Linked DNA regions of Homo sapiens. The protein of the gene in region 1 interacts with the protein of each later gene in a biochemical or structural test. Each region holds a gene or a part of one and is shown on either strand. Other genes may lie near its edges. The genes, in order: UBE2E3, TTC3, CUL4A, RCBTB2, RNF111, HERC4 and MARCHF5.

The links.
Region 2: the proteins of UBE2E3 (region 1) and TTC3 form a complex in vitro, tested with the Homo sapiens proteins (one study listed by BioGRID).
Region 3: the proteins of UBE2E3 (region 1) and CUL4A form a complex in vitro, tested with the Homo sapiens proteins (one study listed by BioGRID).
Region 4: the proteins of UBE2E3 (region 1) and RCBTB2 form a complex in vitro, tested with the Homo sapiens proteins (one study listed by BioGRID).
Region 5: the proteins of UBE2E3 (region 1) and RNF111 form a complex in vitro, tested with the Homo sapiens proteins (one study listed by BioGRID).
Region 6: the proteins of UBE2E3 (region 1) and HERC4 form a complex in vitro, tested with the Homo sapiens proteins (one study listed by BioGRID).
Region 7: the proteins of UBE2E3 (region 1) and MARCHF5 form a complex in vitro, tested with the Homo sapiens proteins (one study listed by BioGRID).

The regions. Positions count from the first base shown.
Region 1 is NC_000002.12:181,060,582-181,064,872, reverse strand, and holds the end of UBE2E3 (ubiquitin-conjugating enzyme E2 E3), read right to left. Parts: intron 4,209-4,291; coding exon 4,061-4,208; intron 2,083-4,060; coding exon 1,985-2,082; 3' UTR 1,448-1,984; downstream 1-1,447. UniProt on the Homo sapiens protein: Accepts ubiquitin from the E1 complex and catalyzes its covalent attachment to other proteins. In vitro catalyzes 'Lys-11'- and 'Lys-48'-, as well as 'Lys-63'-linked polyubiquitination.
Region 2 is NC_000021.9:37,159,304-37,163,773, reverse strand, and holds part of TTC3 (E3 ubiquitin-protein ligase TTC3), read right to left. Parts: intron 4,076-4,470; coding exon 4,029-4,075; intron 2,973-4,028; coding exon 2,916-2,972; intron 1,785-2,915; coding exon 1,711-1,784; intron 1-1,710. UniProt on the Homo sapiens protein: E3 ubiquitin-protein ligase which catalyzes the formation of 'Lys-48'-polyubiquitin chains. Mediates the ubiquitination and subsequent degradation of phosphorylated Akt (AKT1, AKT2 and AKT3) in the nucleus.
Region 3 is NC_000013.11:113,257,573-113,262,042, forward strand, and holds part of CUL4A (cullin-4A), read left to right. Parts: intron 1-3,034; coding exon 3,035-3,187; intron 3,188-4,470. UniProt on the Homo sapiens protein: Core component of multiple cullin-RING-based E3 ubiquitin-protein ligase complexes which mediate the ubiquitination of target proteins. As a scaffold protein may contribute to catalysis through positioning of the substrate and the ubiquitin-conjugating enzyme.
Region 4 is NC_000013.11:48,494,639-48,499,108, forward strand, and holds part of RCBTB2 (RCC1 and BTB domain-containing protein 2), read right to left. Parts: intron 1,684-4,470; coding exon 1,553-1,683; intron 1-1,552.
Region 5 is NC_000015.10:59,025,210-59,029,679, reverse strand, and holds part of RNF111 (E3 ubiquitin-protein ligase Arkadia), read right to left. Parts: intron 1-4,470. UniProt on the Homo sapiens protein: E3 ubiquitin-protein ligase. Required for mesoderm patterning during embryonic development. Acts as an enhancer of the transcriptional responses of the SMAD2/SMAD3 effectors, which are activated downstream of BMP.
Region 6 is NC_000010.11:67,953,284-67,956,783, forward strand, and holds part of HERC4 (probable E3 ubiquitin-protein ligase HERC4), read right to left. Parts: intron 1,848-3,500; coding exon 1,680-1,847; intron 1,456-1,679; coding exon 1,312-1,455; intron 1-1,311. UniProt on the Homo sapiens protein: Probable E3 ubiquitin-protein ligase involved in either protein trafficking or in the distribution of cellular structures. Required for spermatozoon maturation and fertility, and for the removal of the cytoplasmic droplet of the spermatozoon.
Region 7 is NC_000010.11:92,342,720-92,347,189, reverse strand, and holds part of MARCHF5 (E3 ubiquitin-protein ligase MARCHF5), read right to left. Parts: intron 1-4,470. UniProt on the Homo sapiens protein: Mitochondrial E3 ubiquitin-protein ligase that plays a crucial role in the control of mitochondrial morphology by acting as a positive regulator of mitochondrial fission and as an important regulator of immune response.

The DNA.
Region 1 (4,291 bases):
CTTATTTAAGGCCACAATGGTAGTTTGTGGAAGAGCTGCAAATATTTTAAGTAACCAATTCCCTCCACTTTATCCCACACCAGTATGGACACAGCCAACAAGTAAGCAAAATAGTTTGGCGGTGGTAATTAGGCTCATGGTAACTAAAGGAAGTCTAATCATAGCATCCCCAAACATCCCAACATTCAGTATGATTTAAGTTTTTCTAGCACCAAGAGAGAAGTTTATTACTCTAGGGTGTAGAATGTACAATTTTGGCAGTGGAGGAAAAACTACGGTTGATAAAAAACCTTACAACTTAAACGGTCTCCACTTGCATCACATTCACTTGGACTCCATTATAAATTATTAGTTAGGTTTTCACAGAGGTAAAGTCTGAATTCTTCAAAATAGTACCTTTGTATAGTGCTCCTCTGTAATAATGTTGGGGGTGGGGAGTTTAAGTGAAAAACAGATATGTAAGTGTAATTTTAATTTTACTCTGATATAAGACTTCTACTGACAAACAGGAGTCTGCTATTCTAGTGACACACACAACTACACGTTTTACTTTATCCGGAAGCATTTTTTATGTTAATATTTTCACTCTATACATTTTTAAGATGATACTTCATTTCCATATTGAGGACTGGAGAAGACACCTGCCCCATATACCACAACCTTGGTTACATGACCAGAGATGATTACCTTAGTCACAGGGAAACAAAACAAAACAAAACACCACCACCACACACAATTATACTCTGTTTAGCAAATCTAAATATTGCAAAGAAATTCTAACTTTCAAGAAATCTAACACTTCAGAATTACAACTAGAAAGAAGAAATTTAACCTTCTAAAAACCTTACAATTTGGTATTTTACCAATTGAGAAATAATATCACATCTGTACACTAACACAGTTCTAGTCTACCTTCAAGGCAGACAAAGATTTCTGTGTTCATCTCTGCCTCTGGCTGTATTTGCTGGCCACTTGCCATAGTAAGAATGGTAATACACAACATGAACATTCAAGACCAGGATTAGAAGTAAAAAGTGCATCACAGACTAGCTACCACATCACAGTTACCATCTGACAATATTGCCCAGTGCTGAACAAAAATCATCAATTTGGAAGCAACATGTTCCATAAGACATTACCAGATTCCTGAGTGAGCGAGCCAGGATTTCATATTCTTTTTGGCTTAAACATCATATTACCGAAGTACAACTTTATGTGTTTGAGACCAATGGGTCAAAATCCACTTTTGATTATTTAAGGTCATTCTTTCAATAACAAAGGAAAAAAACTCTATGCATTTAATAGGATTTTAAATGTTTTCAATTTAAGAATGGGTTTATTTGTGCTAGTCTTTAGTAATCTTCATAGCCACATTTTTACTTCATCAACAATCATCTCAGACACACTTTCTAACAAGACTGACTTAAAATATTACGACAGGAAACTATGCCTTCAGGAGCATGTTTATTGTGTTTGAGATGATACATCAGGTGCTCTCTGAGCTACAAAGGGTAAAAGGAAATCCTCTCATTACAAACTGACAAAGGTAAAAGGTAAAACATTTTTCACAACAGCATGAACCACATACTCAGAAATAGATCTGGGTTTAATACAAATGACATAATTCCTAGCCATCTACAGCTACTTTTATAACTTCATACAGATAATGAATTAGGCTAAAATGCACTATAATATTTGGTAGACTTCAGGACCAGTATCCTTAGTACATCACAAAATACATTTTGATATCCCAAAGAAGCAAGACTTGCAAGTAGGCGTTTTAAACATAACTAATCTACAGCTACAAAGTTCTACTCTTGATAGCATTTACCTTTTTGGGGAGTCTCCCAGGCTCCAAAGGATAAAAGCAGAGTAGAATCAGTATAACATATACACAGAAGTCCGTATTGTAAAGGCTATAAAGATTTGCAGCACAGTGAGAAGATGCCTTCTGCTCCTTCACACTGCATACAAATTATGTGAATTATGTTGCGTATCTCTTGGTCCACTGTCTGGCTATCCTGTCGTGTTCTGCTCTGTTGGTCAAATACTGAGTGGCTATGCTTCCAACCAGAGGATCCGCTGGAAAAGCAGAAAGAACATTAAAAGCTATTTTGTGGTATCTTCTTCAAGGTATAGTTCTAATATTCTATTAAAATGAAATGCTTATTTTTCAGCAGTATCTTCATATATAATAGCTAAATTTTCAAAAGAAAAAGTTTAAAGTAACATGATCATATGTATATTTTAATATTCCAGTTAGGAAAGTCCCCTTCATAAAAAAAAAAATGAATTTTGAGCTATATATAAAAAGTTAGATTTGACTTTTATAAAAGATATGTCTTTAATATACAAAAACTATTTTGTAATTTTGGCCTTTCATTCAAAATGGAAGTATACTAGGTGGTTATATTTCTGCTTATGAATAGTTCAAAAATGGTTAATTTTAAAATAAAACCCCAGTCTTACAATACCATGCTATTTCAAATAAAATGCTTCCTTCATTCTGTGCCTGATATGACTCTAATCACTATCAATATTTACACTTGAAAACTTACTTGCCATTTTGTTTTAAGTAGAATTCTGAACTAGAGAGTGAACCTGATATAAATTTTTATTTTGATGTTTAAAAACAAAAAAATATGTACATATGGTACAATATTTGAATTGTACCAAACCATAGCCAGTAAAAAAAAACTATCTTCCTTCCTGACTCCAACTGCTCAGAAGTTTCTTTCCCTGGCAAACAATTGTTACCCATTTACAACATTACTTCCCAGAGTTCTTACATGCACTGACAAGCATTTAGAATATTATGTTGTGTATATGTATTTTTTTCCAGTGCCTTTTATACTTAATATATCTTGAAGATATTTCCCTATTAGTTCATATAGAGTTGTCACATTCTTTTTAAACGTTACATCTATTAATGGGCATTGAGGTTGTTTCCAATACTCTAATAAAGGATACCACAATGAATATCCATCTGTCACTATCTATTGCATATGTATCTCTGCCGAGCATAAGGTAACAACAGTAACAGTCTTTAGTGACTTATCAAATATTTAGAAGTAAGTCAACTTAAAAAAAAAAAAAAGGTCACATAACGAAACAAAATGTGTGAAATTTCAGGTCTAAACATCACTTTATCAAGTCAGCTACCCAAGTTTCTGAAGTTCACATGTGGCAGGCATTTTTTAAAGTTATGAATTATACACAAATGATTTTATCTGAGGTTATATAATCATAATCTAGTTCAATTCTCATTGGCTATCATTTTAATATCCATTACTACTACACTTTATATAACTAATTAATTAAAAAAGGAAGGGAGAACAAGAAGCCTTCTATTATTAAAGTAGTTGCCTAAAAGCATACAGCAGCATGGAAGGAGCAGGAAAAGGAGGCACTGGTTTCAGACACATTGCTTTACTCTTGTTAGAAGTGGTCGGCCGGGCGCGGTGGCTCACGCCTGTAATCCCAGCACTTTGGGAGGCCGAGGCGGGTGGATCATGAGGTCAAGAGATCGAGACCATCCTGGCTAACAAGGTGAAACCCCGTCTCTACTAAAAATACAAAAAAATTAGCCGGGCGCGGTGGCGGGCGCCTGTAGTCCCAGCTACTCGGGAGGCTGAGGCAGGAGAATGGCGTGAACCCGGGAAGCGGAGCTTGCAGTGAGCCGAGATTGCGCCACTGCAGTCCGCAGTCCGGCCTGGGCGACAGAGCGAGACTCCGTCTCAAAAAAAAAAAAAAAAAAAAAAAAGAAGTGGTCTGTGCACCTAAATACTTTTAAAAGTAGAGATTCCATTAATGATGGTGACAAAATAATTATAGAGTGGTATGCCATTAACAAATTAAATGAAGGTATTGAGAAACTTTTGGCCTAGTCTACTTCAAATGGCATTGGTAATTTCCTCACAAACTGTTTTATGGGGATCTTTCTATGAATAACATTTACCTCTCAATCTACATTTAAAGCTAACTAAAAAAAAAAAAAAAAAAAAAAAAAAAGCACTCGTTTTTGTAGTCTTATTGTACATGTTAATAAAGATTTGCTTACCAGGGTTGCAGTCTGTCAAAAGGGAACAAATAGACAGCAAAACCTTTGAAATAGTCAAAGCGGGACTCCAGTTGTCTTTAAGGATGTCCAGACAGATGACTCCCTGACTGTTGATGTTGCAGTGATAGATTCTGGTGCGGAAAGTAACCTAAGCACAGTCACATTAAAAACAGAAGGAAAATGAATGCTGTATTACCAATTAAAACACTAAAAAAAAATGAAGGGTAATAT
Region 2 (4,470 bases), on another chromosome or scaffold:
AAGTTGCATTAATTATAACTTGTTAAATGACTGAAAGACAAATGAAGATTGTATTATAACTGCTATAAATTAACTTAAAGTGAGACTGAGACTGGTAAATGGTATTAATAAAAGGTTTTTTTTAAGCCAGGTGTGGTGGCTCACGCCTGTAATCCCAGCACTTTGGGAGGCCAAGGCAGGCAGATCACTTGAGGTCAGGAGTTCGAGATCAGCCTGATCAACATGGAAAAACCCCGTCCCTAATAAAAATACAAAATTAGCCAGGCGTCATGGCGCATGGCTGTAATCCCAGCTACTCAGGAGGCTGAGGCAGGAGAATTGCTTGAACCCAAGAAGTGGAGGTTGCAGTGAGCTGAGATCACGCCATTGCGCTCCAGCCTGGGCAACAAGAGCGAAACTCCATCTAAACAAAAGTTTTTTTTAAATGTAAGATGTTAGCACTCTAAAAAGATGTAGTAGTTTGAGTGTGGACTCTAAAACCAGGCTGCATGACTTAAATCCCAGCTCTGCTATTTATAAGCTTTGTGTTCTTGGGCAAGTCGCTCTGCACTGTGCCTCAGAGTTTCCTTATCTGTACATTGGACAGAATATAATAGCACTTACCTCCTAGGCAGGATAAGTGGATTGAAAGAGTTTATGTATGTAAACCCCCAAAACAATGTCTGATACATAAGAATTAATCTCAGTAAAGGCTATGCTATGGTCTGAATGTTTGTGTTTCTGCAAAACTCATATGTTGAAACCTAATCACCAATGTGATGGTGTTAGGATGTGGATTCTTTGGGAGGTAATTAGGCTCTACCCCCATGAATGGACTTATTGCCCTTATAAAAGAGGCCCCAGAGAGTTGCCTTGTCCCTTCCACCATGAGAAAACACAGCAAAAAGGCACCATCTATGAACCAGAAAGCAGGCCCTCACCAAACACTGAATCTGCCAGTACCTTGATCTTGGGACTTCCCAGCCTCCAGAACTGTGAGAAATAAATTTCTGTGTGTAAGCCTCCCAGTTTATGGTATATTGTTATAGCAGCCCAAACTGACTAAGACAGGCTATTATTTTAACTTAAAACAATTACCCTACTTAAAGAATCCATGAAATGACCACGTAATTTTTAACTGCTCTGATAGCTCCTTTAAGAAATGAGAAAAAAAAAACCATGTTGTACATTTTTGGTTCATAAAGGAGTATGATATAAAAAGGTTACTGCTACTCACTAGTTTTATTTCTTAAATATTTGTTTATTGAAAACTCAGTTTTGACAACCAGATGGCATTGAAAATCACTAATATATAAGGTGAAAACATAACATCATATACAGCTCCCAAAACAGCTTCCTCTCTTACAGGCAAAAATGCCTAGTAAGTATTAACAGGACATTCTCTTTATTGACTATTTTAAAGAATAATTTCTAGACATTTTTCTATGATTTTCCCACAGAGCCTTGCACATGGTAGGTTCTCAATATGTACTTAGTGAATGAATGTCACCAGTGTCGTGACTTTAACACAGTTTGAATGAATTCTTAATGCCTTCTAGCCACACTATATAAATGTAATCAAGATGGAATTACATCAGGTTGTCAGATGCACAGCTTTAGAAAGGAAAGTTAGGGAAATAAAACACAAGTTTATATATATTAAATTAACACAACTTATTAAGTAAAGACATTTGAGTTAAAATGAAGCAAAAATTTAAAAATTATACTTACCTATGGTCTTCACTTGAAGTGATGATCTCATTATTTGAAGTTACTGAAGTTGTTCCAGACCCAACTAACATAGGCTGGTTTAAAAGACAGAAAAATGACAATGATTTTCTACCTTAAAATTCCATTAAAGAGAAAAATCATTAAAATTGATGAATACTTATATAAACACACATACAAATTGCTGATATATAAGATCTATCCAAATTTTCTTATAAACAGGAACACATAGTAATAAAAGTTTCAACAGCCAAAAATAAGCTCAAATTAACATTTAGGATAGTTTCCAATGCTCCAAAAAAATTTAAATGTTACTCAGTTTAAACTCCCATTTTATCTAAACTAAATACATAGTCAAAGATAAAAATAAAAGTTGTATTGGAACTCCTTAACTGTTCTCATCCTTTGAAGATTTGCTACTCTCTCTCACTCCATCCCCCTTTCTGCTCCCCACATACACACAAGAGCCATGAAGAACCCACCAAAGACTTAAAAATTGTGCCCTACTTCTGGCACAGTGGCTCACGCCTGTAAGGCCAAAGTAGGCAGATCGCTTGAACGCAGGAGTTCTAGAACAGCCTGGGCAATATAGCAAAACCCCATCTCTCCAAAAAATACAAAAAATTAGCTGGGCATGGTGGCATGCGCCTGTCATTCCGGCTACTCGGGAGGCTGAGGTGGGAAGATCACTTGAGCCTGGGAGTTTGAGGCTGCAGTGAGCCGTCACTGTACCACTGCTCTCCAGCCTGGGTGAGAGAAGGAGACCCTGTCTCAAAAATAAAAATAAAAATGCCCTACTTATCTAATGGGCTTGGAGGAGAGCCTTTGGTGAGAGGAAGGAAGGGATTCTATCAATCCTGGGACTGTCATAATGATTAGTATTCATCATTTTTAGTTTAAATATGTTATCTATTTTTTGAGACTTATTTATTTTTTGGGACATTATGACAATTTTTTTTTTTTACTCAGAAATACCTAGAAAAATAAAAAAGACAATAAAGAATACGAGTGTCAAGACTTGCTATTATATAATATGAACCTGGAATTTCTTCAAAATGTAGAAGACTGCCAAAACATCTTTAAGTCCTAGAAAGTCTTTCTCTACAAATGTTTCAAAATATCCCAAGAATTGCTCAATTCTAATGTATATGTCCAACTAACTATTTTGGAGAGTTTAGACAAGAATTAATACAGAAAATACTCCATACCTTTGAATCCTTTGGCTTCTTTTTCTTGCTTTTGTTTTTCACCTTGGTTGAACTAAACTAAAAAATGGGGGGAAAAATCAGTGAACACTCAAATAACAGCATTATGAAGCTCAACATAAAGAAACCATATGAGTTTTTACAGACTAGCCATAAGTTAAATGTACATAAAATGTTTAACAAAAATAACACTACAGTGTATCAGCCCAAGTGCTACGATTTATAATAGAAAACAAACAAAATTTAATAATACTAATGTATACTAAAATTAAGTTGTTCCAACATTTTTATCTTATTTTCCACAGGGTTGGACTGTTATTTCAAGTAATTAATCAGACTTTTAAGTAATTCCAGTTAGATGCCATAATAGTAAATTTATTATTAATATATTTCTTTTACTAAGCCAAACTAGACATTCTGCACCTGACCAGACACTGGGGCACAAACAGTGAATAAAGAAGCCTTCAGCTCCTTATGGAGTATTTCAGCTGTGTTTCCCTGCTTAGCTGGGCAATATTTGATGGAGCAGATTAAGACAAAATTTCATATAGATAGATGATTTGCTCCTGAAAATCAGTAAACAGGCATTTTTCTCTTTGAAAACTGCCACAATGTTGTGCTTTTCTCTATTTACTCACTTTCCTAAACTGAAGAATTTCTGAAGAATGAATAAAAGGCAACTGCAAACTACTAAGGAAGACAACTCTGGAACTGTTTTAACTTAAACGTAATTTAGAGCCACTCAAAACAAAGTCCCTTTGTTTTCCTTCTAGAGCAGAACATTAGAAGTTTAGTTATTAAAGACAACTTTTCATTTTTATGCCAGGAGATGAAGAACTCTTCCTTTCTTAATTAGAATATTAATGTTTATCAGCTCTGAAACTTTATAGAAATTGTCTAATTTAAGCCTCATAGTTTGCTGATTATTGCTCCAATTCCGAGAGGAAAACTGGCAGTGACTTTCTAATGAATAATAGTACGTACTACCCAGACGTCCTTTTAATGTGGTTCTTGAATGCTGGCTGTGATGTCAATAAACACTGGCCTGGGTCCCCTTCTCATCCTTGGTTTAACATCAGATTAGAACGTAAGATTCAAGTGATCCAAGTAACTTACCGGTGCTTCACCACTATCTTGTTTCCTTAACACAGTACAGCGGCTGTCTGTAGGAATATACAGATGGTTTTGTGAGAAAACTAAATATTTACATTTCCATATAGTACACTAAAGCCTTAAAATAACTCCTCATACTACTGGCATAGGCCATGTTCTATTCCTTATTTGGCTTTGACACAAGTGTAGTTTAGAAACCAAGGGCAAAATGGCTGACTAAACGGGAAACCAACTACAAAGAACCATAAAACTTCAATCTGATTCAGCATAATGTTGAGTGCCTTCTAGGTACCATCTATGCTAGTCCTGGGAATAGAGATGCACAAGACAGTCCCTACCATTGATGAACTCCTGTTCTACTGCCAGAAAGACAAACAGACAAACTCCTGTAACCCAGCGTGCTAAGGACCACGTGAAACACAAGGCAACAAAGGCTCACGAAGGA
Region 3 (4,470 bases), on another chromosome or scaffold:
TGCCCCACATGTTTAAACGACCAGATCTCATCACCAAGGGGAGGGCCCAAGCCATTCATGAGGGACCTGCCCCCACCCACCCGGTCCCATCTCCAACACTGGAGACCACATTTCAGCATGAGATTTTGAGGGGACACATATTCAAAACCATATCATTGGCCTAAGAGAGAAATTCCCTTAACCAGAGTTTTAAAAAACATTTATACTATGTTATTTTTCTAGAAGTTTTTACATTTAAATCTTTCTTTTCATGTTGCAGAAATTATTTTAGTATCTGAAAACAGTCTAACTGCCCCCATCCTTTCCAAAACCAAATTTAAAATATCATCCTTGAACAAGTTATTTGAATTATCACCTTATTATGTATCAAATTCATATAGGTCAGTTTCTCAATTCTCTTCTATAAATTCTGTGTCTATTTCATAGCCAGCCATTTTTTTTGTTTTGTTTTGTTTTGTTTTTTGAGACAGTGTCGCCCAGGCTGGAGTGCAGTGGTGTGATCATAGCTCACTGCAGCCTCAACCTCTTGGGCTCAAGCGATCCTCCCACCTCAGCCCCAGGCATATGCCACCACGCCCAGCTAAATTTTTGTATTTTTTGTAGAGATGAGGCCTTGCCATGTTACCCAGGCTGGTCTTGAACTCCTGGGCTCAAGCAGTCTTCCTACCTTGACCCCCCAAAGTGCTGGGATTACAGCCGTGAGCCACCGTGCCCGGCACCAGGTTCTTTTAATTAATGTAGCTATTCCTATAACTTTATTCTTCCAATGAACTTGACAATAATTGTATCACGCCTTTGCTCCCCCAAATAAGAACATTGACATTTTTAATCCATATTGCATTAATTTACAGAGCTTTTATCTTTATCATATTAAATCTTGTGATTCATACATATGTGTATATATGTAAATACATACAAATCTTTTTCTCAGAGCTTTCTAGTTTTCTTCTGTAAGTCTTGCATATTTCTTGCTAGTCATAAATTTTCATTCATTCAACAAATACTTATTGAGCATCTGTGGTGGCCCAGGTCCTCTGTGAAGCACTGAGAATTCATCCATTAACAATAAAGAATAAGTCCTTGTTTCTAGGAGTGTTCAGTCTTTTCCAGCAGAGAGGTAGCAGAGGATCACACACATTGACTAACTTGTAAGAGTGGAGGAAAATGTTAGGATAGAGAAGTGCAGGAGAGTCTAATTAAATACTGTCGTCAGCCAACGCTTTCCTGAAGAAGTGACTAGCTTTGCTCAGGAACTGAAAGAAGGCCTCTGGCTGCAGCATCGTTGCCAAAAGGGGAAGCTGAGCCAGACAGGCCTGATCAGGGAGCCACAGCTGGACCCTCTGAAGATGGCTCAGATCCATGAAGCATTTGGAAAACCACTAGAGTTTTAAGCAAGACAGGCTAATGAAATGCTGATATCTTATAAAGGGGACCTTTTTTCTTTACATTTCTGACGGTTTTTATCAGAATGTATGTATTAATGCTATTTGTCTTTGTATATTTATTTTATTTCCAGCCACTTTACAAAACTCTTTAGCTTTGAAAGTTTTTCTGTTGATTTTCTTGGATTTTCCAGCTCATCTACAAATAATGATCGTTTTGTCTGCACCTTTTCAATATACCTCTTTAGTCTGTTCCTGTATTGCATAGTTAGAACCTCTAAAGTAATGTTTTTAAGGAATAGCAGTGCAGCTGAGCTTCCTAATTTTATCTCTAGTTCAGAGGATGTTAACTTTTTGGGGGTCATGGATCCTGTTGAAAATGTGATGAAAGCTTGGAGTCTCTCCCATCCTGAAGCATACTTGCCTCATATGTATGCACAGACCTTCCCCCAGCCCTCATTTCAACTGCAGATCCCCATCAGGTTCCTGTTGGACTAAGGTTAAGTTGTCTCTAGTATTTGCTGTTTGTTTCTGATAACCATGTTTTATCATGTTCAGATGCTTTTTTATTCATCCTTGTATGCTAATGTTTGTTTTAAATCAAAAAATCAATTTTATCATGCCTTTTCAGCATCTATCAAGATGGTCATGTAATCTAACCTTTCAACTGCTACAGTGCTCTCACTTATATTCACAGATTTCCTAATGTTGATCAACACTTAACATTTCTGGAATATATCCTGATGGTCATTATGTTTTGTTTACTGTGCTGCTAGTTTTAATCTACATCACACATAGAGTTGTTGCAGCTTTCTTATAAGGAAAATAACTTTTAAAAATATTTTTTAAGTTTTGGTTTTGGAGTTTTGCTATTCTGGGAAGGTACCTTTTACTACAACAAGTAAACATGCATAATAAAGTAGGATTCATCCAATGTCTGACCTTTCTTTGCATCAAAAGAACATTTCCGGCCAGGCACGGTGGCTCACGCCTGTAATCCCAGCACTTTGGGAGGCCGAGCCAGGTGGATCACGAGGTCAGGAGATCGAGACCAGCCTGGCTAACATGGTGAAACCCTGTCTCTACTAAAAATACAAAAATGAGCCGGGCATGGTGGGGGGGCACCGTAGTCCCAGCTACTTGAGAGGCTGAGACAGGAGAATGGCGTGAACCCGGGGGGCGGAGCTTGTAGTGAGCCGAGATCGCGCCACTGCACTCCAGCCTGGGTGACAGAGTGAGACTCCGTCTCAAAAAAAAAAAAAAAACCATTTCCCATCAAATTCGGTAACATCAGGTCATTAATATTGAAATATAGGCCAGGTGTGGTAGCTCACACCTGTAATCCCAGCACTTTGGGAGGCCAAGGTGGGCGGATCATCTGAGGTCAGGAGTTCAAAACCAGCCTGGCCAACATAGTGAAACCCTGCCTGTACAAAAATACAAAAAGTAGCCGGGCATGACAGCAGGTGCCTGTGATCCCAGCTACTCGGGAGGCTGAGGCAAGAGAATCGCTTGATCCTGGGAGGCGGAGGTTGCAGTGAGCCGAGATCACACCATTGCACTCTAGCCCAGGCAACTGAGTGAGACTCCATCGCAAAAAATAAAAAGAAAATACAGTTTTACACTTAACTTTTTTTTTCTTTTTTATACAGGTTGAGGAACAGGTTAGCACCACTGAGAGAGTGTTTCAGGATAGACAATATCAGATTGATGCTGCTATCGTCAGAATAATGAAGATGAGAAAGACTCTTGGTCATAATCTTCTAGTTTCTGAATTATATAATCAGCTGAAATTTCCAGTAAAGGTAAATGTAACATTAGCATAATTAAATTTGTAGTATTTGCTAAACAATTGACAAAGCATGTTTAATTCTATGTTCAGTCATATCATTTGACCTGCATTATTCATGGTGCTTTGTGTATACACTGAATGTAGAAAAACTGGCAAATGTGAAGCTCTTTATTCCAGGTGTTGCTCATTGCCACTGCAGAAATGATAGAGCCCTAAAACTCTCCTTCCCAGGGATGGTGCGCGCTTGTTCATATTTTCAGGAAGGGAAGAGGTAGATGGGACATGGAAAGCTGAACACTTTTCTCATAGTAGTAGCGGTCAAGGTTACATCACAAGATTTTAAGGAAATGATAACAATAACTAACTTACTCAGCGTTTACAGCCTACACCGCGTTTTCCACCACGGTAATAGTCTACTGTTGCTGTTGCTTATGAAAGTCAGCCCAGGCCTGTCAACCCGCGTTGTTTTCAGAACTGAGATTTACTGTCCTGCCACGTGTGGGATGCAGGATAAGCCGGGAAAGTATTATGAAACGTTTTTTACATGTATTTATCAACCCAGGAAATACTGAACTCTGATGACGCCTGGCCTCTCAGGGACAGGACCGGCCACACGTGCTTTGGAGGGAAAGTCCCCAGATTCCATGTTGTGCAGTTTGAGCCTCCCATTCCATCAAGGGAATAAAGTTGAGATGCACTAAATAGTCGAACACTTAAGAGTCTGGTGGAAGTGCCACTGTCCATCAGCCCACATTTGCCCCCTTCCCTGCAGAGGTGAGGTGCCGTCCTCAGGGCCCTGGGAAGCTCCAAAAGCACCATCAGGTTCACTGCCCCTTCCTCCCACCAGCTGGAGCAAGTCTCCTGTTGCCACTGCAAACAATCAGGCCCAGCGCGAAGCAGAGGTGAGCAAGAGTGGAGTGTGGCAGACCAGGGCACCTGCTCTGCTCTCGGGTAGAGAGTGGCAGACCAGGGCGCCCACTCTGCTCTCAGGGGTAGAGTGTGGCAGACCAGGGCGCCCGCTCTGCTCTCGGGTAGTTGGGTTTTTTTTTTCTTTGAGATGGAGTCTTGCTGTCCCCCAGGATGGAGTGCAGTGGCACGATCTCGGCTCACTGTAACCTCTGCCTCTCGGGTTCAAGCAGTTCTCCTGCCTCAGCCTCCTGAGTAGCTGGGCTTACAGGCACGCGCCACCACACCCAGCTAATTTTTGTATTTTTAGTAGAGACAGGGTTTTACCGTGTGGTCAGGCTGGTCTCAAACTCCTGACCTCGTGATCCGCCTGCCTCAACCTCCCAAAGT
Region 4 (4,470 bases), on another chromosome or scaffold:
AAAAATGAAGCCTGATTCAGATGCAAACACCACGTGCCACCATCTTGACATCTGAGATGGCCCTCCATCACCGTGGCTCATCACTGTGATGCTCAAGAATGGACTAGGAAAAGTGCATGGATTTTGTCTGACCATGAAACATTCTGTGTTGTAAGTGCCCAATATGTTATTGCCTTGATATAAAACATTCACTGTGCTGTTAAATGTCATTGTTTTGAGGTAGTACTTTTTTTTTAATGTTAAGTGAAAAAAAATCTAGGTTTCAAGTATTTACAAATATATAATGTGACATAAAACAAAAACTCAGAAGCTGTTATATGAAAGTGCTAATGTTCTCTGGTTGATGAGTCATTACCTTCCTCACTTTTTGTCTTTTACAAATTTTCTTTAATAAGCATAGTATTATTTATGTAAACAGAAAAAAAGTTATAACCTTTCATCTACTAAAATGTCTCTGTTTTCTTTGACCAAAGGAGAGGATATCCTTATACCAAAAGGAAACTGACTCGAAGATGTTACAGCCTGTTTCCTAAAGATTTGGTTCTAAGATTGGTTTTCTTTCCTTTCTTTATTATCATAACAATACATGGTCACTGTAAAAGTTAAAAAAAAATAAGCAAAGAGAAGAAAATAAAAATCACCCACAATCCCACCATTCAATGATAACCACTAAGCATAGTTTTCAGTCTTTTTTTCTATGTAGATAATGAATTTTAGTTTTTTATTCAGCTATTTATACTTTTTCAAAAAATAAAAATAGGATAAGTTTTTCACTTAGTGATATATCTTGAATAGCTGCATAATTTCTTGATATTAACATTTTATAAACAAGCCTCCACTATTCACACTAACCTTTTTCTGATTTTTCAAAATTATAAACTGCTGAAGTAAACACCTTTGAAGCTAAGTCTTTGTGCAAATCCATGATTAATTCCTCAAGATAAATACTTGTGAGTGAATTCCTTGAAGAATTATGTCTTTAATTTAAGGTGCTTAATACATATTATACCAAATTGTTCTCCATACCAATTTGTACTCTCATCAGCAGTTTAGGAGAACACCATTATTCTGATCCTATACATTATCTCTAAAAATATATTCCTGCTTTGACAGGTGAAAAGTTATACCTTGTTTTCATTTATGTTTTTTGTCTATTTATAGAGCCATTTGTTCTTTGGTCCATTTCTTTCAACCAAACTGTTCCTATTGTCTTTTTGTTTTTCACTCTGGTAAACAGACTTCATTATATGTTGCAAGTATTTTTCCCAGTGTCTCATTACTTTGTAAGTTTCTCTATGGTATTTTTAAGTGGATAAAAGTTTCTTATCTTTTTAAATCAGAGCTATAAATCCTTTATGGCTTCTGCCTTTGATGTCCATCCCAACATTATATAAATACTTGCTTATACGTTGTCTAGTACTCTTGTTACTTCATTTTTTAAAAAATATTAAATATTTCCTCTACCCAGACTTTCTTTTAGTTTAAGGTACGAGGCAGACACCTGGGTTCCATTTCTCCAGGAGGCCGGCAGCTGGAAGCAAGCTTTCCTTACCTGTGCATCATACTTCACCGCAGCCGAGAGCAGAGCGATGGCATTCTCCTCGCAGATGCCTTGCTTGATAGTTTGTTGGCAGAGCTTTTTCAAACGATTTTCTCTATAAAATGTAGCCAAGTCTAGCAGTCCTGGCGGAAAGAGGTGTTTATTAGGGGGAGTGATTTCAAGCATCCTGATTTACAGTTGCTCACTCAGCCACTCAGAGATGATTTTGACACTATTTTAGATATAATCCTCAGTGAAGCACTGCATAGACTGATGCTGACTGACACTTACACTTCAGTGTGGGGCTCTACCCAGGATGGCAGCCAAGCTGAGCAAACATGATACACAAATCATTAGCTGTTGAAAAACAGGAGCACAGGGAAAATAGCTTTAATATTTTTTTCCTAGGAAAAAAGCATGTGCGCCTTGAATGACCCCTTCCCCTGCAATCTCAATGTCAGCTTCTCCTGGGCCACTCCCAGGAGCACACACACATGCTGTAAGAGTGCCCGCCGTGAAAAGAAAGAAAAGAAAAGAAGAAAAGAAAACAAAAGAGAAGAAAAGAAGAGAGGACAGGAGAGGGAGGGGAGGGGAAGGGAGGGGAGAAGAGAAGAGGGGAGGGGAGAGGAGGGGAGGGGAGAGGAGGGGAGGGGAGAGGAGGAGAGGGGAGAGGAGGGGAGGGGAGACCCTTTCATGGACACGTGTCTTCCTCCTGTTACCCTATCCCACTGCTCCTCTCTACAGCAAAACTCCTAGACAGAGCTATCTGTATCTGCTGTCTCCATTTTCCCACCTCCCATTCTGACCTCAAGCCATTACAAGCAGAACCCCATCCCCACCACTACTGCAGTCACACCCTTGGTGGTCACACCTGTGGCAGTCACAGTGGCTTTGAGGGTGCAATATTCTCTGGTTTCCTCTTACTCGACATTTACACAGAATTTGATATGGTTGATAATGCTCTCCTTAGGACACTTTGTCACTTGCTTGCATTTTTCTTCTCTTTAATTAGTTGCTCCTCAGTTCTCTAGGCTGGATCATTTTTCCTGACTTCCAAATGTTTGAGTGCCCCAGGGTTAAATCCTCAGACACTTTCCTCACTTACTTCCCAAAACCCCAGCCCCAGGGTTTTAAATATCATCTATATATGCAGGTGAGTCCTGTTATATTACCTGTCACCTATTTTCAAGTAATTCAACGTAGACTGGGTGAGGTGACATATGTAAATTAATTTTAATCTACCCCAAGGAATGATAGGAAGTACTCTAATTGAAGCAGTCAATCAGCATCTGAAAGATCCTATTTGTTTTTCTGAATCTTCATTACAGGATTTGTAATTAGCATAAAGAATGTCAGAATTAGTTTGTCATTGCTGAAATGAGTGGTAGCCAGGATCAAAAGGCTAGCTGAATCCGGCTACTAGAACACTGTCATGTCCACCTCAAGCTAACTTTTCATGCAAGGTACTTAATAGAGTGTACGAAGTATAAAGAGCAGGGATTTCATCAATTTTACCATATTAATTGTTTTTGTGTCTATCTGCTAATAAATCTTATACATGTGGTAGACTTTGGTTGGAAACTTGCTTTTTTAATAACAAATATTATCAAAGTTATAGAGGAAAGACAGATAGCCCACTGGAGGACACTGAAATCTTGAGTTGTGAATGGCTTCATTGTTTTTGGCCCCAAGCTTCAGACACACATGCAAGCTGCACTGCCCTAAGAGAGGACTCTGCCCCAAGCCCCAGCTCTGCGCCTCCTCCACGCACACCTTCAGCACAGGGTGGCTAAGGAGCCACATGCCCACTTCTAGACCACACTTTGGGTACCTGGGAACCTGGGACTGCCTGCATAATTGGCCTTGAGGCCACATGTGTGGGTATTTCCTCCCTTAGACCCCACCACCAATGTGCAGACCCCCTGGCCCAAAAGGGTAACCTGGGTTGGGGGTGGATAGAGCTTGGAATGCAAGCTAGGGTGCCCACACACCCTTCTGCTGGAGGAGGGGTCTGTCCTGCCTGTGCCATTGGGTTCTGGCACAAGAAGTCCTGCAACTCTAAATGTCAACTAAAATTGAAACCTGTCCTTTCAGTTCTTAATGAAATTACATTTTTCAAGGTGGGAGGATTGGACATATTTTTATCTGAAGTTCACTAGCTTGACATATAACTTTAAGTTTTTAGACATATGGAACATAGGTCTCCATTTGGAGTCTTGGCTACAGCCCCACAAATGTTAGTGGTGGGCCGATAAAAAACTGCCACTCGCGGCCGGGCGCAGTGGCTCACGCCTGTAATCCCAGCACTTTGGGAGGCCAAGATGGGCGGATCACCTGAGGTCGGGAGTTCAAGACCAGCCTGACCAACACGGAGAAACCTCGTTTCTACTAAAAATACAAAATTAGCCAGGCGTGGTGGTGCATGCCTGTAATCCCAGCTACTCGAGAGGCTGAGGCAGGAGAATCGCTTGAAACCGGGAGGCGGAGGTTGTGGTGAGCGGAGATCGTGCCATTGCACTCCAGCCTGGGCAACAAGAGTGAAACTCTGTCTCAAAAAAAAAAAAATTATCACTTGGGTATCTAATGGGAAGCTCAAACTCCTTTGACTTTCAAAGTCCAGAGCAAGCCTGTTGTTCTCTATCTTCCTCACCTCAGTGCCATTAAGGCAGCTACCCAGGCCAAGTACCTCAGTGCAGCCATCCTTCTCTCTCAACTCACACCTCTCATCCCATCTATCAACAAATCCCATCAGCAACCTCTTTAAAATATATCTAGAATCTGATCTCTTTTCAATACTTCCACTGCTATACAACCCCAACCCAGGAGACCATCATCTCACACCTGAACCAATATAATAACTGATGTTTTAAACACAGATCACATCTCTCCTGTGGCAGAAGCTGCTAGTTGCCTCTCTCCCGACCCCCACC
Region 5 (4,470 bases), on another chromosome or scaffold:
TTTGAAACCAGTTCCTAAAAAGCGAGTACAACAGCTGTTTAGTAAGCAAGTATTTTCCCTCTCTACAAATGGGTTACAGAAATATATAATCTTACAGGTCTCCCATGTTACTATAGTATATAACTTTACTATCAGAACAAATGACAATAATTAAGGCATAGAATGACCTATTCCTACAGAAAGCTATCAAAACCACTATCTTCTTTTATTCTTATTCACAAGCACAGGCAGTGCTGTATCCAAGATCAGCCATCACGCGCTATCTGTAGTTCAGCAGGATCAGTGATAAACCAGGAATACAAAGATGAGTGAACATGAGCATGGCAATGAGCAAATTACAGAAGGCAGCCAGTCAGACAAGGATCACTTTAATTAAAGGCAAGAACACAGAAGTCACAATGATAAAACACAGGTACATGTGATCTAAGAGTTGAATGGGGCCAAACAGGATGGCTGTAATAAAGAACACAGGTAATAACAAGTGTTAGAGAGGATGCATAAAAAAAAAACATTGGAACCCTCATATATTGCTGATGGAAATGTAAAATGATACAAGCTACTTTGGGAAGCGGTCTAGCAGATCCTCAAAAATTAAATACAAGCTGGGCGCGGTGGCTCATGTCTGTAATCCCACCACTTTGGGAGGCCAAGGCGGGCGGATCACTGGAGGCCAGGAGTTCGAGATCAGCCTGGCCAACATGGTGAAACCCCATCTCTACTAAAAATACAAAAATTAGCCAGGATAGTGGCGCACTGACTGTAATCCCAGCTACTTGGGAGGCTGAAGCATGAGAATCGCTTGAACCTGGGAGGCAGAGGTTACAGTGAGCTGGGACTGCACCGCTACAGTCCAGCTTGAGCAACAGAGCAAGACTCTATCTCAAGAAAAAAAAAAAAATTAAACACAAAATTGCTATGTGACCTAGCATTTCCACTCCTAGGTATGTACCCAAGAGAAATGAAAACACATATTCATAAAAAAACTTATAAACAGCAACATTAGTCATAACAGCCAAAAAAGTGGGAACACAAATGCCAATCAACTGATGAATAAATAAATCCATACAAAAGATTATTACTCAGCAATAGAAAGAAATGAAGTACGGTAGTCCCTCACTATCCAGTTTAACTTTCCACAGCTTCAGTTACTCACACTATGAGAGAGAGACCACATTCACATAAGTTTTATCACAGTATGTTGTTAGAATTTTGCTACTTTATTGTTGTTGTTAGTCTCTTATTCTGCCTAATTTATAAATTAAACTTTATCATAGGCATGTAGGTATATGAAAAAAAAAACACTATATGGTTTCAGGCATCCACTGGGGGACTCAGAATGGTTTCCCCTTGGACAGGGGCGCAGACTACCATACTGACTCAAGCTACAACATGGATAAACAATATGCTAAGTAAAAGAAACCAGTCAAAAAGATAACATAATGTAAGATTCCCTTTATATGGAATGTCTGGAATAGGCAAATCTACATAGATAGAATGTGGTTACCTAGGGCTGGGGATCATCGGAGGATTCAACTATGATGGCCGAAAAGCATGGAGTTTCTGGCCAGGCGCGGTGGCCAAACCCTACACTTTGGGAGGCCGAGGCGGGCAGATCACCTGAGGTCAGGAGTTCGAGGCCAGCCTGGCCAACATGGTGAAACCCCATCTCTACTAAAAATACAAAAAATTATCCGGGCATGGTGGCGTGCACCTGTAATCCCAGCTACTCAGGAGGCTGAGGCAGGAGAATTGCTTGAACCAGGGAGGCAGAGGTTGTAGTGAGCTGAGATCACACCACTGCACTCCAGCTTGGACAACAAGAGTGGGGAAAAAAAAAAAAAAAGGTGGGCCAGGTGCAGTGGCTCACGCCTGTAATCCCACCACTTTGGGAGGCTGAAGCGGGTGGATCACCTGAGGTTAGGAGTTTGAGACCAGCCTGACCAACATGGTGAAAAGAAACCCTGTCTTACTAAAAATACAAAAATTAGCCAGGCATGGTGGCAGGCACCTGTAATCCCAGCTACTCAGGAGGCTGACGCAGCAGAATCGCTTGAACCCAGGAGACATAGGTTGCAGTGAGCCGAGATTGCGCCATTGCACTCCAGCCTGGGCAACAGAGCAAGACTCTGTCTCCCAAAAAAAAAAAGAAAAAAAGGTATAGAATTTCTTTTATTTTCAGTGAACTGAAAATGTTCTACAACTGATTGTGGTGCCAGCTATTCAACTCTGTGAATATACTAAAAACCCAGTGAAATAAAATCTCAATAAAACTCCTGCCAGAAAGTCAAGAGGTTTAAAAAAAGTGAAAAAGTCAAGAGGAAAAGTATCAAGATTTCTAGGCATCAGAGACTCCATCAGCAACAGAAGTCTCATGATGTATGTTGGAAACAGCTGGGGTTCTTCCAGAAACCCATGTCAGAGTTATGTTCTGGTGGATTTCAGAGGAGGAGATCTTGGAGTCTTTATGGGCTGAAGATTTAAAAATTAGACTCCTCATCCGTAATTACTAAGTCCTCATGTTGATAATGGAGATCATGAGAAGCAATGAAAACTTGCCAAAAACCAGACAAATTCTGAGAACATGCAGCCATACATTAATTTACAAAGAAGCAATTCACAGCACAATTAACTAAACCCAATTTCTTTTCCATCATTTCATGTCCCAAAGCCAAAACAATGCAATCAACTCTTTATGGTTAAATCTGCTCTGATTTTTGATCAGTTTAGTCTGTCCAATGAGACAAGGGTAGAGGAGAGCAAGGGGGGGTGGTTTGGTGTATGCTGTGGTGTGTGTTTGTACACCAGTTAACTCTTCTCTGAGTTAACATATCATGCAGTCATTAAATGCAAAATTAATATCCCATATAACTAAGAGGTTCCCACCCAGGGAGTAATTCATACTATTTTTTTTTCTAAAATCCATCGCTGTATTGTATCATGTTCTAAATTTTTTTTTCTAAAATCCATCCCTGTAATTGTATCAGGCTGTATTTTGAACTTAGAAGAGGAAAGTTCAAAAGGAAATAAACACAAGTATTGCATTTAACTTAAAAAGCAGCAAATATAACAGATAATATTCTAAATTATTTGCTGTTTGATAAAACCATATTCTAGTCTTTTATTTTTGTAAAAATTATTGGCTGATCTAATTTACAAAGGAGGCAAATGCGTACAAGATATATCTCCTTGGTGACATTATAAATGGCTTGCTGTTACACACTGTTTCAATACTGAAACCATAATACTAGTCCCTCTTTGTGTAGATCGATCCAATCATTTCATTGCTATGTCATGATGACTGCATGCTAATTACTCCTGATACTAGTGTAGAATACACCACTATTAGTAAACCTTGCACTAAGAAAATACGATAGCTAAAAAAAAATACTAACTTTCAAAACTAAAAATTAGGGTTGGGATTTAGTAATTCACATCATAAACAAGTTTATGTGAGCAAAAGGAGGAAAAACCCATTAAGACTATCCATACAACTCTGAGGAACTCTACTTCTAAACTGTGATACACTATTATTGGTATGATGCTTCACCACCAATTATAAATATGAATACTTGTTTCAACTTTAAATAAAAATGTAATGATTGCTTACATGACTCTAAAGAAATAAGATTTTAAAAGAAAAAAAAAAAGCCGGCCGGGCACAGTGGCTCACGCCTGTAATCCCAGCACTTTGGGCGGCTAAGGCAGGCAGATCACCTGAGGTTGGGAGTTCGAGACCAGCCTGACCAACATGGAAAAAACCCGTCTCCACCAAAAATGCAAAGTTAGCCAGGCGTGGTGGCACATGCCTGTAATCCCAGCTACTCGGGAGGCTGAGGCAGGAGAATCGCTTGAATCCGCAAGGCAGCGGTTGCGGTGAGCCGAGATCGCGCCATTGCACTCCAGCCTGGGAGACAAGAGCAAAATTCCGACACAAAAGAAAAAAGAAAAAAAAAAAGCCATAGATGACTTGGCATTTTTCTACAAAAGTTTTAGAGATTATCAGAAAATCAACTAGAAATATGTCTACCATTTAACTATCTTTTTAATATAATTAAGTGAAAAAAATAATACCTGTACTACAGGGATATCACTTGGGGTGTGTATTAAATTTTTAATTCTCTTATTTATTTTACTATGTGCCAGCTTAAGTATATTAAATCAAATGCCTGAAAGAATATTCTCTTCTACTACCTATAACTACTACTACTCATATCTAGATAATACAGACAATATGCTTTGTTACATATTCTAAATAGCCAAAATTTCATTAGCAAGAAAGGTATTTTCCCTCAAAAGTATCACTATGGACCCTCAAGTGCATTAGCTCGTACTAAAATTTCTCAAGAGATTTCTGCTAGGAGTACACAACCTAATAATGTACTCAATTATGAAAAGAAGAGTGGGACCCTTGATAAACTTATTACCTTTCCTAGTAGAAAGGAGAAAGTTATACTCACGATAACTGCTATG
Region 6 (3,500 bases), on another chromosome or scaffold:
AGAGTATAACAATTTTAAATTATATCAAAACTATATTATCTGGCTGTCTATCTATATTAGGGTATACTCTTTGTACAAAAAGAACTGAAAAACAATTTAAAACATTTTAGTAATCATAATATTGGTGGTAATGTTGGTACTGTTAGGCAGTAAATGTGTAAGATAAGTCTGGAACATTCTGTCATAGTAAGTACACAAGGTAGCAAGGAAGGTACCAAAAAGTATATAGGTTGTTTCAAAAGGACTTGGGCACCAACCTTAAGAGCTCTCCTTGAACAAAGATGGGACAATATGAGCATCAATGAAGACAATAACTGCAGTGAATTGAAAAACATCAAGTATGTTTAAACCTATGAATACCTAATGATACTTGAAAGCAAAACACAAAAAATGAATTATTACCAGTGGACTATGCTAATGAACCAATTCATTCTTTTGAAAAATTGGTAACTAAATAGAATCCTTTCCTATGAATTGCACTACTAAGGAATCAGAAAACGTGAGGAAATTTCTCTATACAGAAGTATCCAAGCTAATAAATGAAAAAGAAATATTAGAGTAGCACACCATTTTGCAACCCCTGATGAATTAGAGTCTAGGCACTAAGCTGCTAACATTACACAAGACAGCCAACCTCCAGGCAGAATGATTAAATATTACATTGAGGTTTTTACAACCAATAGCTATTCTATCTAAATTTCTTTCAAGTCAGGAGTTCTACTAAACTGATCCATCCTTTTCACTTATGATCACTAAATTGGGTCAGCAAACTTTCTATAAAGAACCAGATGGCAAATATTTTGGGGTTTCCTGGACATAAGGTCACTGTTGTAATTACTTAAACTCTGCCGCTGCTATTGTAGCATGAAAGTAGCCTTGGACAATAGGTAAAAGAGTGGGTGTGACTTTTTTTTTCTTTGAGATTAATGGGCTATAGTCTGCTGACCTGCTCTAAATGACAAGGTAGATAAATCAATGATCCCTAATGATAAATTAATTTTTCCCAACAGAAAAGTTAATCTGGTGATTATTATTCAATCCTCAAATTGAAATCAGCAGAAGGAATAGTCAACATTATTTTCTGGCTAACCATCTCTTAATTTATTTTGTTAATTTAAAATGTGTGGTAAGCATCAAATGTATTTTGACAACTCCAAGTCCAAAGTTTATAATTTCTCAAATTGTAATAAAGCAGATCTTATATGTTAGGGATCCAGTAGTAATTCCTTATTTACTGAATTAACTTGATACATACAGGTATAAATACATGGGTATATACACAGAAGTAATTTAGATGGTTGGACATTTTACCTTATCAGAAAACCAAATGAGCCTGGAATCTTCATAATACCTAAACATGCCGTATTTAGGATCCAATAATTCCCTCATGATGAGCAAGAAAAATTCTTTGCGCACCCCTCCTGCATCCACAGCATCTTCTCCAACAAATATAACCTAAAATAGCACAATGCAAACACCAAATAGACTGTAAAGAAATGAAAGTACATTCTGGAGACCCTAGAACATGTTATTTATTACTAATACTCTACAATTAATAGTTTAAAATAAATATAATTTTATTTATTAAGTTTAAAAGATTCACTAAAAACAAATAGGAAAATTTTAAACATAGCTTCTGAATAAAAGTCCCAATTATACCACAGAAAATGTCAAATTACCTTGAGTGGCTTCTTGTAATCTATGTTCTTTGTTTTCCTAAGGACTTCCATTGCATCTCCTACAATATTTTCTCTACGCACCACTAGAATTAAGCAGGGATTCACAGATTCAATCACTGGGAGAAAAAGAGAGGAGACATTCTGCCTGTGGGCCTGATCAATAGCCATCTGGAAAACAAAAGATTAACATTTTAACAGCAATGCTACAATAAAGCTACTGTGACTGAAACAAGCTAACCTCTACCTATTAGTTACAGGTATTCTATAATTCCTATGCTACTGAATTAACATAGCACCTAACAGTATCCCGTACAGCATAAAACTTAATAAACTGAGCATAAAGAGTACCCTTTTGAATGTTTTTATACTAATGTATAATGTATAACTCATAACACCATTAGAGTAAGCCAGTACAGAACGGTAGTAATACTGATAAATCTGAGCATTGGTTTTTCTAAAAAACATTCACTGGAGGGGAGGGTAAAGAGGGAGGAGCAAAAACAAACCTTTAAAGAGTATAAGGAACAGGCTGGGCGCAGTGGCTCACGCCTGTAATCCCAGCACTTCGGGAGGCCAATGAGGGCAGATTACTTGAGGTCAGGAGTTCAAGACCAGCCTGGCCAACATGGTGAAATCCTGTCTCTACTAAAAATGCAAAATTAGCAGGGCGTGGTGGTGTGTGCCTGTAATCCCAGCTACTCAGGAGGCTGAGGCAGGAGAATCACTTGAACCTGGAAGGCAGAGGTTCCAGTGAGCTGAGACTGTACCACTGCACTACAGCCTGGGCGACAAGAGCGAAACTCCGTCTCAAAAATAAAAAATAAAAAACAAAGAATAAGGAATGATCTGGCTAAGGAAGCATTACACAAATTCACTTAACTAAGTGATCATGGTATGTGCTCACGAACCAAGGATTTGACTTTTACCATTTAAAACTTTTGTTCTTTTATTATGGTTCTCCCTGAGTTCTTGTTCTAAAATGGAATATCCCATGGTAAAATCACCAAGTTATTAACTTATCGTTTTAACAAAGACCTCCAAAAAATTGGCTTACTAGCTGTTAGTATAGAACACTACAAAAATATTTAGAATACCAAATGCATTTATTTGAACAGAATAAAAATGGTTACCAAGATTTGAAGGTTTTTAATTTTTTAAAATATTTTTAGACTATTAAATATTCAAGCTTTCTTTTCATCCTTTCCTTAATCCTTAGTTGGTATAGTCAGATATTCTATACCAGAGGAAGCAGCTCAAAATCTTTTTTATTTACAGGATCAAATGATAAAGCAAACTTACTGTAACCCTTTAAAGTCATAATATGAATTAGTTTAAAAAATCCTCTCTATAAATGAAAGAACTCTCAACATAAAATGGATGGGAAAGGGTGATAGGAAGGGGAAAAGAAAGAGGAATAGGAGATAATGGTGACCAACCCCAGGAACATGTTTAATACCTTATTATTGAAACTTTCTTCAAGGAAATTTCACATCTTCTTCCTAACGAGATCAAATGCTTCCTACTTTTAACATCTCTCACCTCTAGTGACTTCCATCTCTTACCAAGCATATAAAAAGGGGACATATAATGAAACAAGATTTTGAAACAAACCAACATCTTATCAAGTAAACTAGTAAAACGGTTTATAAAGATTGAATATTTCTGTAATGAAAGAGGCTTATACAATTTTTAATATATAAAATGATTATAGGTTAAGTTATTCCATTTTCACTGCAACCTTTTTTTATAAATGTTCTCATAAGAATATACATATCACATGCAGCAGTCTTCTTTATAGCTACCCAAAGTACTTTGTGTACC
Region 7 (4,470 bases), on another chromosome or scaffold:
TAAAGAAAAAAAAAGACAGGGTCTTGCTACGTTTCCCAGGTTGGCTTTGTACTCCTGGGCTCAAGCAATCTTCCCACCTCACCCTCCTGAGTAGCTGGAACTACAGATGAGTGCCACCACGTCTGGCTAAGAAATTCTATTTTTATATCATTAAAAATTTCAATATAATGATCACTCTAACATTATAACTAAATATGATTAAATATTCTCAAAGTGTTAGCAAATAAATTCAGAATATTTGAAAAAATCCTTTGTCGGGTTATGTGTCCTTTTTTTGGGTTTAGAAATATAAAGAAGAGTGAATATTCAGGTATAGACTAGAGCGAACAAGAGGAAGTTTGTTTCTCATGGGTAGCAGTAAAAACCTTATAAGGTGTTTAAGAATAAGGAAACAAAAAGGAAGTAGGGGTTGGGCACTGTGACTCACAATTGTAATCCTAGCACTTTGGGAGGCTGAGGCAGGCGGATCACCTGAGGTCAGGAGTTTGAGACCAGCCTGACCAACATGGTGGAACCCCGTTTCTATTAAAAATACAAGCCAGGCGTGGTGGTGGTCATCTGTAATCCCAACTACTCGGGAGGCTGAAGCAGGAGAATCGCTTGAACCCAAGAGGTGGAGGTTGCAGTGAGCCGAGATTGCACCAGCCTGAGCAACAAGAGTGAAACTCCATCTCAAAAAAAAAAAAAAAAAAAAAAAGAAGGAAATAGGGCAAAGAATGAGCAAAGGCCCAGTATTTCACTTGTTACAACTAAAGTGAAGAGAGATGCCCCATGCTCAAGCAAGTTAGAAGTGGGATGAGGCTCATCATTCACACATGCATTCATTCATTCACTGAATAATGATTTTGTGCTGGGGCTAAAATGGCAGGTTAAACAGATGTCTTTTGAAAGTGAGAGAAAATCAAACCAAACAAGTGTGCAAATATATACACTGTGAAGAAATAAGGTAGTATAACACCTGCAGTACACCACTTGCTAAAACAGTCATACTCAGGGGCAATAAATGAAAGGTGATTAAGCAATAGGCCTGATTTAATTTTGGCCAATACAAAGTCAGTGAACCTGTGTGTAATCACATACATTCTGCTTTCTTGTCCCAAGATTTAAAAACATTATTTTTAAGACTTCGATTTTGGGGTAAGCTCCAGGAATTATATAGAATGTCTAAGAATTTGTTATCTATGTATAAAATAAAGGCCTGGCTGGGCACAGTGGCTCACGCCTGTAATCCAAGCACTTTGGGAGGCTGAGGTAGGTGGGTAACTTGAGTCTAGGAGTTTGAGACTGGGCAACATGGTGAAACCCTGTCTCTACAAAAAATACAAAAATTAGCAGGGCGTGGTGGCATGTGTATGTAGTCCCAGCTGTGCAGGAGGCTGAGGTGGGAGGATCACCTGAGCCCAGGGAGTTCGAGGATGCAGTGAGCCGTGACTGCGCCACTGCATTCCAGCCTGGGTAACAGAATGAGACTCTGTCTCAAAAAAAAAAAAAAGAAAAAAAAAAAAGAGAAAAACAAAAGACCTATAGAATTGCAGGTTTAGAGAAAAATAATTTTTTGTTTTTCCTGCAGAAGGGCTAAAAGCTAGATTTTCATATCTAGGTAGGCCTGCAGTTCATTGCTGCTGAAAGGCTAACAGTTTTAATTAAGGTCTGAGCTTTTAAATTATTATTAGAATTCTACATTAATTAATTAGAGACAGAGTCTTGCTCTGTCGCCCAGGCTGGAGTGCAATCTTGGCTCACTACAACCTCTGCCTCCCAGGTTCAAGCGATTCTCACGCCTCAGCATCCGGAGTAGCTGGGAATACAGCCACTATGCCTAATTTTTTCTTTGTATTTTTGGTAGAGATGGGGTTTCATCATGTTGACCAGGCTGGTCTCCAACTCCTGGCCTCAAGGGTTCTGCCTGCCTCAGCTTCCCAACGTGCTGGGATTACAGGCATGAGCTACAGCACCTGGCCAGAATCCTAACAAGAGGATGAAACAGTGATGAAATAACAGGGTTTTTTTTTTTTTAACTCAGAATCAAGGATAAGTAAGTACTGTAATTAAGAATGGGCAATGCTAATGGGGGCTGTCTTTGCACTAGAGGCAAAAATGGGAACTAGGCTAAACATATTAAGGTTCCACTGTTCCAGGATAAAATGTTCCAGCTGCCTCTGGGACCAGGCTTCACTTAAGGAGCCAAGGGACAGGAGTCCTAATGCTTCTCTGCTGTGTGGCACTGGACCTGTAAACTCTCTAAACCAGTAAACTAGGAATAATTTATAACAATAATCTATGTCATAAAATTGTTGCAAGGGTTAAATGCATCAGTGCTAGGTGTTCAATACAGTGCCGAGAAAAAAAAATTATTGTGTTGTCTTTTCAATAAAAATGCAAGAGGAAGGTCCTATTCAAGTTCCCCACAACTAAAAAGTATTGATTCTATGACAGGTCCATGGAGAAGGAAAGAAAATAAATGGGAAAATAACAGTGATCTGATTCCTTGATTTGGTTTACTTGTACTGCAGGGTTGTTAAGGAATCAGAGAAAAACAATCAAGTGTTAGAAGGCAAACCCTAAATACTACTGATGGTGTAGAGGGGCACATTCTCTATCATATGTGCTCAGGAAGGTAAAAGTCATCTTCCCAATACTCTTAAATCACACAACACTATCCACCTACTGTCATAGCTAGTCTCATTTCTGGGCTAAAAAAAAAAAATCTTTTCAAGTGAGACATTACATGTGAAGGTTATTTCTAAATGGTAACACATATGTGTACTATAGTTTTTGCTTCCTTGCTTATTTCATTCTACCAATTCAAATTATTTCCTTTAAGGGTTAGCTCAAGACTTTTCTCATAATTTCAAATCAAATTATCTTTCACTTTTACTGAATTAAAATATTGTTTATATAGTCTTCTGCCCTCTTATCACATTTATCTATCTAACCTGTAACTGTTCTCCAGTGGTTTCATTTATGAACGTCTTGTCTTGGACTATATCCCTTGATGCTGGGGATCAGAGTTTTCAATTTATTTGTGTTTTAACAAGTGCCCCATTAATTATCAAAATTCTTTTAACATTGTGCCAGCCTAAAAATCTTTCTTAAAAAAGAGCCATCTCACTTCTTATGGTCAATAAAGTCTTAAGAAAATAACTCAATCTCATTTGCAAAATATATATATCTATATAATGTATTTGTACATTAAATAATGTATAATCTGCTCTAAGTTTCTATGTCTTTCTCAGTCTTAGTAAATCATCCTGATCCTCCCTCCTCAGGTGATGTACTAATACTCATTATTTGAAGTGGTCACATAAAAAACATAAAGACTGCCGGGTGCAGTGGCTCACACCTGTAATCCCAGCACTTTGGGAAGCAGAGGCAGGCAGATCATCTAAGGTCAGGAGTTCCAGACCAGCCTGACCAACATGGTGAAACCCCATCTCTACTAAAAAGACAAAATTAGCTGGGCGTGGTGGCACATGCCTGTAATCCCAGCTACTCGGGAGGCTGAGGCAGGAGAATCGCTTGAACCCGGAAAGCGGAGGTTGCGGTGAGCTGAGATCACGCCACCGTACTCCAGCCTGGACAACAAGAGCGAAACTCTGTCTCAAACAAAAAAACAAAAAACAAAACCACAAAGATTTATGAAACCCTTTAATGTGTTAGTTTCTATGTAGATGCTGTAACAGGGAATACAGAAGCATAAAATGGACTCTGCTTTCAAGGAAATTACCTCCTAACAGGAAAAATAAGGCCTAAAAACAAGAAAAGTTAAACAGATAATCTATATAAGAAATGTCACTTCATCAGGGCAGGACTAGCTGCCATTTGAGGAATAAAAATGTCATGAATGTGGGGGAAGAAGGAATCACAGCAGGCAGGAGTTGCCTGTAAGTTCTATGGAGGAAAGCTAGCTAAGCCTGGAAGGAGGGTTTAGATTTGGATAAGTACACAGAAGACTAGAAGGGCAGGTATTAGGTTGGGAAGGTGACGTAAGCCAAAGGACAGAGGTGAAAAACTACACAACATAAGGATGGGTTGGAGGAGACAGCCCAACAGCCTTAAAGCAGAACGAAGTACGATTACAGAGGACCCTGTGTATCAAATCATGCTAAAGTTCAAGTCAGTGGTTCTCAAACTTTATTCACTACACTCATGTCAGATATGTTTCACTGTTTGTGATTCATTTAACTGTATCCATATTTTTGGGATGTCATCATCATTTTATAAGGAAGTCTCATAATACTCTGTCTCACCATGACCATTAATGGAGCAAGCCATAAAGGTTTGACCCTGGCATAGATACATATGCAGTTCCTGGAATATTAGGTAAAATTCCAAGCATTCCTTTTTTGTTCATGTAAATTCTAATTTATATTAAAGAAAAGCAAATTATATCATCTACAAACCTAAGTGTGTTCACTACTACAGAGTTACTTAGGAAACACTTAACCAATCTAGATGCTGCTCTTGAAG